Homo sapiens: one gene and its partner. The protein of the gene in region 1 interacts with the protein of each later gene in a biochemical or structural test. Each region holds a gene or a part of one and is shown on either strand. Other genes may lie near its edges.

Region 1 (3,829 bases):
TAACCCTGGTTATTCTCCAATAATATTCTGTTTCCTTCCATTTACTGCAAGTCCTTTCCAACCATACTCCTGTATCCATTTTCTTACTGAATTTTTCCACTCACAACTTCTTTATCATCCTAAGCACTCCACTTAAACTACATTCTTAGGTATCACCAGCTTCTTTTCAGTCTTTGATTTATTTTTCTCTTTTAACCTATATGTGTCATTTGACACTTTTTATCACTTTGAAACTTTCTTCATTATTGGCCTTTGTTATTATCTTATTCTCTTGCTTCTCTGACTATACACTGTTTCCTTACTTCTCCATTTCTTAACATCCAAGTCTCAGTTTGTATCACTTGAGTGATCTTCTGTCCTTTCAGAGATATCATTTACCTTTATAGCTTCGTCTGTCACCTTCATGAGATTAATTTTCAAATTTCTAGGCAGGTCTTGTTTTTCCACCTCCAGAAACATATTTAACTATTGGCTAGAAATTTCAACTTGGCTATCCCATATCATTTAAAACCAAACTTAACAAAAATGAAAGAAAACCAAATTATCAACCTTTCCCCAAAACTGACTTCCTTTTCTGACTTTCCTGCCTTTGTTTATTTATTTATTTATTTATTTAAATTTTTATTTTTTTAATAGAGAAAAGATTTTGCCATTTTGCCCAGGCTGGTCTCAAACTCCTGAGCTCAGGTGATCCACCCGCCTCAGCCTCCCAAAGTGCTAAGATTACAGGCATGAGCCACTGAGCCCAGCTGTTTCCTACCTTTATTAATGGTTTCAAAAGTTGGTTTCCAGACTCAAAATGAGTTGTTATTGAAACTTTTCTCCATTATCATTCATATCCAGTTTGTCACTAGGGCCCACTTCAAATGTTATTTTTGTCTTTGCACTATCACTCCATACTATATTTTAAACTTCTTGAGGACAGAGACAGTATATTATGCTTCCTTACATTCTTGCAATTTTTAACCAGTAACATATACATGATATATTGAAAGATTTTAACTTGAATGAAGTGAAGGAATCAGGGTTCCTTCTTTCTCCTTTTCTCAAAGGTACTGCTAAAGTCAGACAGCCCAACAGGTGATGTTTTACTGGATGAAACTCTGAAACACATCAAAGCAACTGAACCCACAGAAACTGTCCAAACATGGATAGAGCTACTCACTGGTAAGATGACTTAAAATAATATATGAATTTCACACTTTGTTATCTTTATCCTACCCTGAAATTTAGTAAAAGATGTACCGAAATTCATCGTGCTGGATGAGATAGATGTGGTTCACTATTTAATTCTAATGAGGGACAGAAAAAGCATGGTTAATTGATACCTAAAGTTTTCCAAAGCTTCACCTTATCTTCTGCCACCCCACCCCAAAAGCCCTTAAATAGTATTCTTCACAAGAAACTTTTAAAACATCTTTATTGAGAGGACAATGAGAATATTGGCATTGATGCAGTCTATTATTCTTATTAGAATTTCCCAGTTTTAATTTGCCAAATAATATTTTATTGCATGGCCATACCACATTTGTTTATCCAGTCATCAGTTGATGAATCTTTGAGTTATTTCCACATTTTGGGTATTGTGAATAATGCTGCTGTGAACACGCACGGACAAGTTTTTGTTTGAACATGTTTTCATTTCTTGTGGGTATGTAGCTAGGAGTAGATAACTGGGTCATATGTAAATCAACGAGTAACATTCTTACTGTGGTAAAATATACATAACATTTATTATTATTATTATTATTTCGAGATGGAGTCTTGCTCTGTCGTCCAGGCTGGAGTACAGTGATGCAATCTCAGCTCACTGCAACCTCTGCCTCCCGGGTTCAAGCAATTCTCCTGCCTCAGCCTCCCAAGTAGCTGGGATTACAGGCACGTGCCACCACGCCTGGCTAATTTTTGTATTCTTAGTAGAGACAGGGTTTCACCATATTGGCCAGGCTTGTCTCGAACTCTTGACTTCGTGATCTGCCCGCCTTGGCCTCCCAAAGTGCTGGGATTACAGGCGTGAGCCACCGCGCCCAGCCAACATTTATTATTATTTTAGCCATTCTTAAGTGTACAATTCTGTGAAATTAAATATATTTGCAATATTTTGTAACCGTCACCTCTATCTATACTATACCCAAAGCTTCCTCATCATTACCCATTAAAACTCTGTACCTATTAAATGATAACTTCCTCTTTCTCTCTCCCCCCAGTCCCTGGCAACCTCTATTCTACTTTCTTTTTCTATGAATTTGCTTACTCTAGGTACCTCATATAAGTAGAATCATACAATATCTGTCATTACTTTCCCTAGCTTATTCACCAAGCATAATGTTTTCAAGGTCCATTCATGTCACAGCATATATCAAAATTTCATTCCTGTTTATGGCTGAGTGATATTCCGTTGTATGTATATAACACTTTCGTTTAACCATTCATCTGTTGATGGACACTTGCCTTGTTTCCACCTTTTGGCTATTGTGAATAATGCTGCTGTGAACATTGATACACAAATATCTGTTCAAGTTCCTGTTTTTAATTCTTTTGGATATATACCTAGGAATAGAATTGCTGGGTCATATAGCAGTTTTATGTTTAACCTTTTGAGAAATCACCAAACATTTCCACAGAGACTGCACCATTTTATATTCCCACCAGTATGCACCAGGGTTCCAATTTGTCCACATGCTGATCACCACTTGTTCTTCTCTTTCTTTTCTTTTTTTTAATTATAGACATCCGAGTAGGCCTAAAATGTTATCTCATTGTGGTTTTGATTTTTATTTTCAAATGAAAATAGTTTTCATGTCATTCCTAATGACTAAAAATATTGAGCATATTTTTATGTGCTTACTGACCATTTATATATCTTCTTTGGAGAAATATAAAATACTTTTCCCATTTTTAAGTTTGATTGTTTTGTTGTTGTTGAGGTTTTTTTGTATTTATTTATGAGATGCGGTCTCACTCTGTCACCCAGGATGGAGTGCCGTGGTGCAATCTCGGCTCACTGCAACCTCTATCTCCCGGGCTCAAGGATCCTCCCACCTCAGCCTCCCAAGTAACTGGGACTATGGGTGCGCACCATCACACCTGGCTAATTTTTTGTGTTTTTGGTGGAGATGGGGTTTTGCTATGTCACCCAGGCTGGTCTCTGAACTCCTGAGCTCAGACAGTCTACCCATCTTGGTCTCCCAAAATGCTGGGATTACAGGCATGAGCCACTGTGCCTGGCCAGAGGTTCTTTATATATATTCTGGATATTAATCTTGCCGAGACCAGCTCAGTTGTGGAGACCCTAACCCAGTGGCGCTAGAGGAATTAAAGACACACACACACAGAAATATAGTGTGGAGTGGGAAATCAGGGGTCTCACAGCCTTCAGAGCTGAGAGCCTTGAACAGAGATTTACCCACATATTTATTGACAGCAAGCCAATCATAAGGTTTACTAAAAGTATTCCTTATGGGAAATAAAGGGATGGGCCGAAATAAAGGGACGGGCTCTGGCTAGTTATCTGCAGCATGAACATGTCCTTAAGGCACGGATCTCTCATGCTATTGTTTGTGGTTTAAGAACACCTTAAGCAGTTTTCCGCCCTGGGTGGGCCAGGTGTTCCTTGCCCTCATTCCAGTAAACCCACAACCTTCCAGCATGGGCATCAAGGCCATCACAAGCATGTCACAGTGCTGCAGAGATTTTGTTTATGGCCAGTTTTGGGGCCAGTTTATGGCCAGATTTTTGAGGCCTATTCCCAACACGTCCCCCTTCTTTGTTTTACAAAGCAATAAAAGCAAAGGCAGCTTTGTCAAGGTGAGCTACTTCTCACAGAAGT
Region 2 (3,829 bases), on another chromosome or scaffold:
GCAGTACTGGGAAATTGAATAGGGTCTTTTTGGCAATTAGGTGTAAGGAGAAAGAAAGGAGGAGTCAGCATTGTTGCATGATTTGAACTTGAGTAAACCACTGGTTGGGATGTTTTTGACAGAAGTATTTAAATAACTCGAGTACAATTTTTAATATTCTGGTTCTTTTTTTTTTTTTTTTTTTTTTTTTTTTTTTAACAGTCACTGTTCTTTTCATCCTGTCAATTAGTAGGCCACTTCCAGGTTAGGCATTCAGTAAATCTTTCAGCTTATATGGAGAGACAGCCTCCATATGTACAAAACTACTTGAGTATTGCTAAGGTAACATTTTAGAGCCCTGTCTTTGTACCTTAATAGCCTACAAGCCCCTTCTGACCCTAGAAATAGAAAAGACTAGTGTGCGTTTTGCCTTTCCTTAGAAGAAATTGGCAATGATGCCTTTACAGAGCAATCAAGATCAGATACTATGAGAGTTAAGTATGTTTTTCTGGCTTTCTGATTTTGTTTTGTTCTTATTTTTTATGTGTTTGTTTGGAACTTTCGTATTGAGGTATAGCATACAAACAGTACATACAGTCAAGTATGTGGTGTTACTACTCAGATTGAGATATTAGATCTTAGCTCTCTAATGCTTCAGTATACCCTATCAGAGATGACCATTTTTTTTTACTATATAATTTTTAACCTATTCAATGTAATATTTTATTAGGTAAAAAGCTGCTTTTTTCAAGACTTTAGGAGTCTTGAATCCCCATGAAATGCATTTTTAAAAAGCATGGGCTGGGCATGGTAGCTCACACCTGTAATCCCAGCACTTTGGGAGGCTGAGGCAGGCAGATCACTTGAGGCCAGGAGTTCGAGACCAGCCTAGCCAACATGGCGAAACCCCGTCTCTAGTAAAAATACAAAAATTAGCGGGTGTGGTGGCATGTGCCAGTAGTCTCAGATTTGGGGGTGGCTGAGGCACGAGAATAACTTGAACCCAGGAGACAGAGGTTGCAGTGAGCCAAGATTGTACTGCTACACTCCAGCCTGGGTGACACAGCAAGACTCTATCTCAATTAAAAAAAAAAAAAAAAAAAAGTATGTTATAGTACAGGGATGGTGTATTTATCCAGGATGATTTTACTCCTTATGTTTCTAAATGTTATTGCTTATCTTATGCTCATGTAAGGTAATTAAAAAACTAATTAACATTTCAATTTTAAAAAGGTATATAGCTGTCCCTTTAATGTGGTCACATGATAATTATTACTTAAGTTAGGTTTTATCCGCTTTTAAGTAAGTATGTGTAGAACTGAAGTCCAAATATACTGCTTGTGCTTTTTTATTCTGGGAAAAAAAACTATCAAATTACTGTATGTTTTTTCTTTTTGTTTTAAGAAGTCAGCACTCTAAATAATTGTATTAATCAAGTGTTGTGATTGTTTCTAAAGGTGTTACTAATGGATTGAGAGGCCAGTCTGTTTTAGTTGTGATTTTGTTATTACCTGGTTGTTTCACCTTGAGCAGAACCGTTAACTTCAGTGTATCTTAGTTTCCTCATTTAGAAAATTTAAGAAGTTGGATGACGTATTCTCCAGCTGTTCCAATGACAGGAATCATGATTCTGAATACATAGTAATTCTCCTCCTTTGACAAAGAGAAGGCAAGGAAAAGCTAAGACATGAGATTCCATTATCAGTAATGTTATTCCTGTAAGTGTGTGCACATATGCACACACATATGTATGTTTGCCTGTGTATTTCTTGTGACTTGATTTAACATGTGGTCTGTTCTACCTCTCAACAGTGGAAAAATGACTATCTCTAATGGATTAACAGATTTTTTTCCCTCTTTCGTGTGTATTTTGAGGCTCTTAGTCGGGACATTGTCATAGTTACTTAAGTTTTCAACTTTAACTTGTGCCAAAACTCATCTTAAGAAATTTTTAAAATTAAATAGTGATTATTAGGGTAAATATATGCAGTACATATATAGTATACAATATATGCAATACATATATAGTATAGGTGACTAAGATGTATAAGAAAAATTTGGAAATTAAGAACCATGTTTAAAAAGGATACAGACCGGGCGTGGTGGCCCACACCTGTAATTTCAGCACTTTGGGAGGCTGAGGGGGTGGATCACTTGAGGTCAAGAGCTCGAGATTAGCCTGGCCAACATGCTGAAACCCTGTCTGTACTAAAAATACAAAAATTAACCTGGTGTGGTGGCAGGCACCTGTGGTCCCAGCTACTCAGGAGGCTGAGACAGGAGAATTGCTTGAACCCGGGAAGCGGAAGTTGCGGTGAGCTGAGATTGCACCATGGCACTCCAGCCTGGGCAACAGAGCGAGACTGTGTCTCAAAAAAAAAAAAAAAAAAAAAGGCTACCAAAATAATGCCAGTTTTACCTTTTTTTTTTTTGAAATGGAGTCTCACTGTGTTGCCCAGGCTGGAGTGCAGTCATGTGATCTCAGCTCACCGCAACCTCCGCCTCCCAGGGTTCAAGTGATTGTCGTGCCTCAGCCTCCTGAGTAGCTGGAACTACAGGCATGTGCCACCGCACCTGGCTAATTTTTGTATTATTAGTAGACGCGGGATTTCACCATATTGGCCAGGCTGGTCTCGAACTCCTGACCTCGTGATCTGCCCGCCTCAGCCTCCCAAAGCGCTGGGACTACAGACGTGAGCCACCGCGCCCAGCATAGTTTTATCATTTTTAGAATCTTTATTCCTATCATTGCTATGGCTGTAGTTTTCAATTCCTATATCATCTCTTTCATAAAGACATATATCTTGTTATTTAATCATAGGGAGGCAGTATGAGTGTGATATTTAAGGACTGAGACACTACAACCAGACTCTTTGGGTTCAAATTCCAGTTCTATAACTTATCAGTTCTGTATCTTTGGCAGCTTACTTAACCCCGCTGTGCCTTAGTTTTCTTATCTGAAGTAGAGACAAAATAGTACTTGCTTCAAGTCCTTCCCAGGGTTGTTGTGAGCATTGAATGAGTATTACATGTTAATCACTAAGAAGAATGCTTTTTATGAAATATAAAGTAAGCTATTACAGTATATTGAAATGCTATTGTGAAATCAGATTTCTGTTTTTAGAGAAGTTCTGAAATAATGTTTCTTTTCACTAATTGTCCTAGTTTCCTAATGGAAGTTGGCTTTCTAGAAAGTAACAAATAATTGATACAAGATTATGATGGTGTTAATGAGTTTTTAAAACAGTATTCTAACCAGAATATGAACACTGTTCTAATTTAAGTGACATAATATTGTTCAAAAATGTCTTCGTGTAGATTGTTTTAACAGCTCTTTTGAGCTCTAATTGAAATGCAATAAACTGTATATAATTAAAGTATACAATTTGATTAGTTTTGATGAATATATATACACTCACCTATGAAACCACCACAACTGAAGCCGTAAGTATATCCATTACCTCCAAAAGTTTCGTCATGTCTGTCAGTGATCCTTCCTTCCCACTTCTCCCTGCCTCATTACAAGGCACTGCTGATATTTTCTGTCACTCTATATTTGTTTATAATTTCTCGAGCAACCTTGTCCAGTCTGCTGCCTGTGGGCCTCATATAGCCCAGGATGGCTTTGACTGCAGCCCAATGCAAATTAGTAAACTTTCTTAAAACATTATGAGATTTTTTTGCAATTTTTTTAGGCTTATCAGCTCTGGTTAGTGTTAGTGTATTTTATGTGTGGCCCAAGATAATTCTTTTTCCAGTGTGGCCCAGGGAAGCCAAAAGATTGGACACCCCTGTTCTAGAGCTTAAAAAATACTATATATGGAATCATACAGTGTATATTTTTTTGGTG

The links.
Region 2: the proteins of GOLPH3L (region 1) and EBAG9 form a complex in vitro, tested with the Homo sapiens proteins (one study listed by BioGRID).

What each region holds. Positions count from the first base shown.
Region 1 is NC_000001.11:150,659,152-150,662,980, reverse strand, and holds part of GOLPH3L (Golgi phosphoprotein 3-like), read left to right. Parts: intron 1-1,052; coding exon 1,053-1,167; intron 1,168-3,829. UniProt on the Homo sapiens protein: Phosphatidylinositol-4-phosphate-binding protein that may antagonize the action of GOLPH3 which is required for the process of vesicle budding at the Golgi and anterograde transport to the plasma membrane.
Region 2 is NC_000008.11:109,542,971-109,546,799, forward strand, and holds part of EBAG9 (receptor-binding cancer antigen expressed on SiSo cells), read left to right. Parts: intron 1-3,829. UniProt on the Homo sapiens protein: May participate in suppression of cell proliferation and induces apoptotic cell death through activation of interleukin-1-beta converting enzyme (ICE)-like proteases.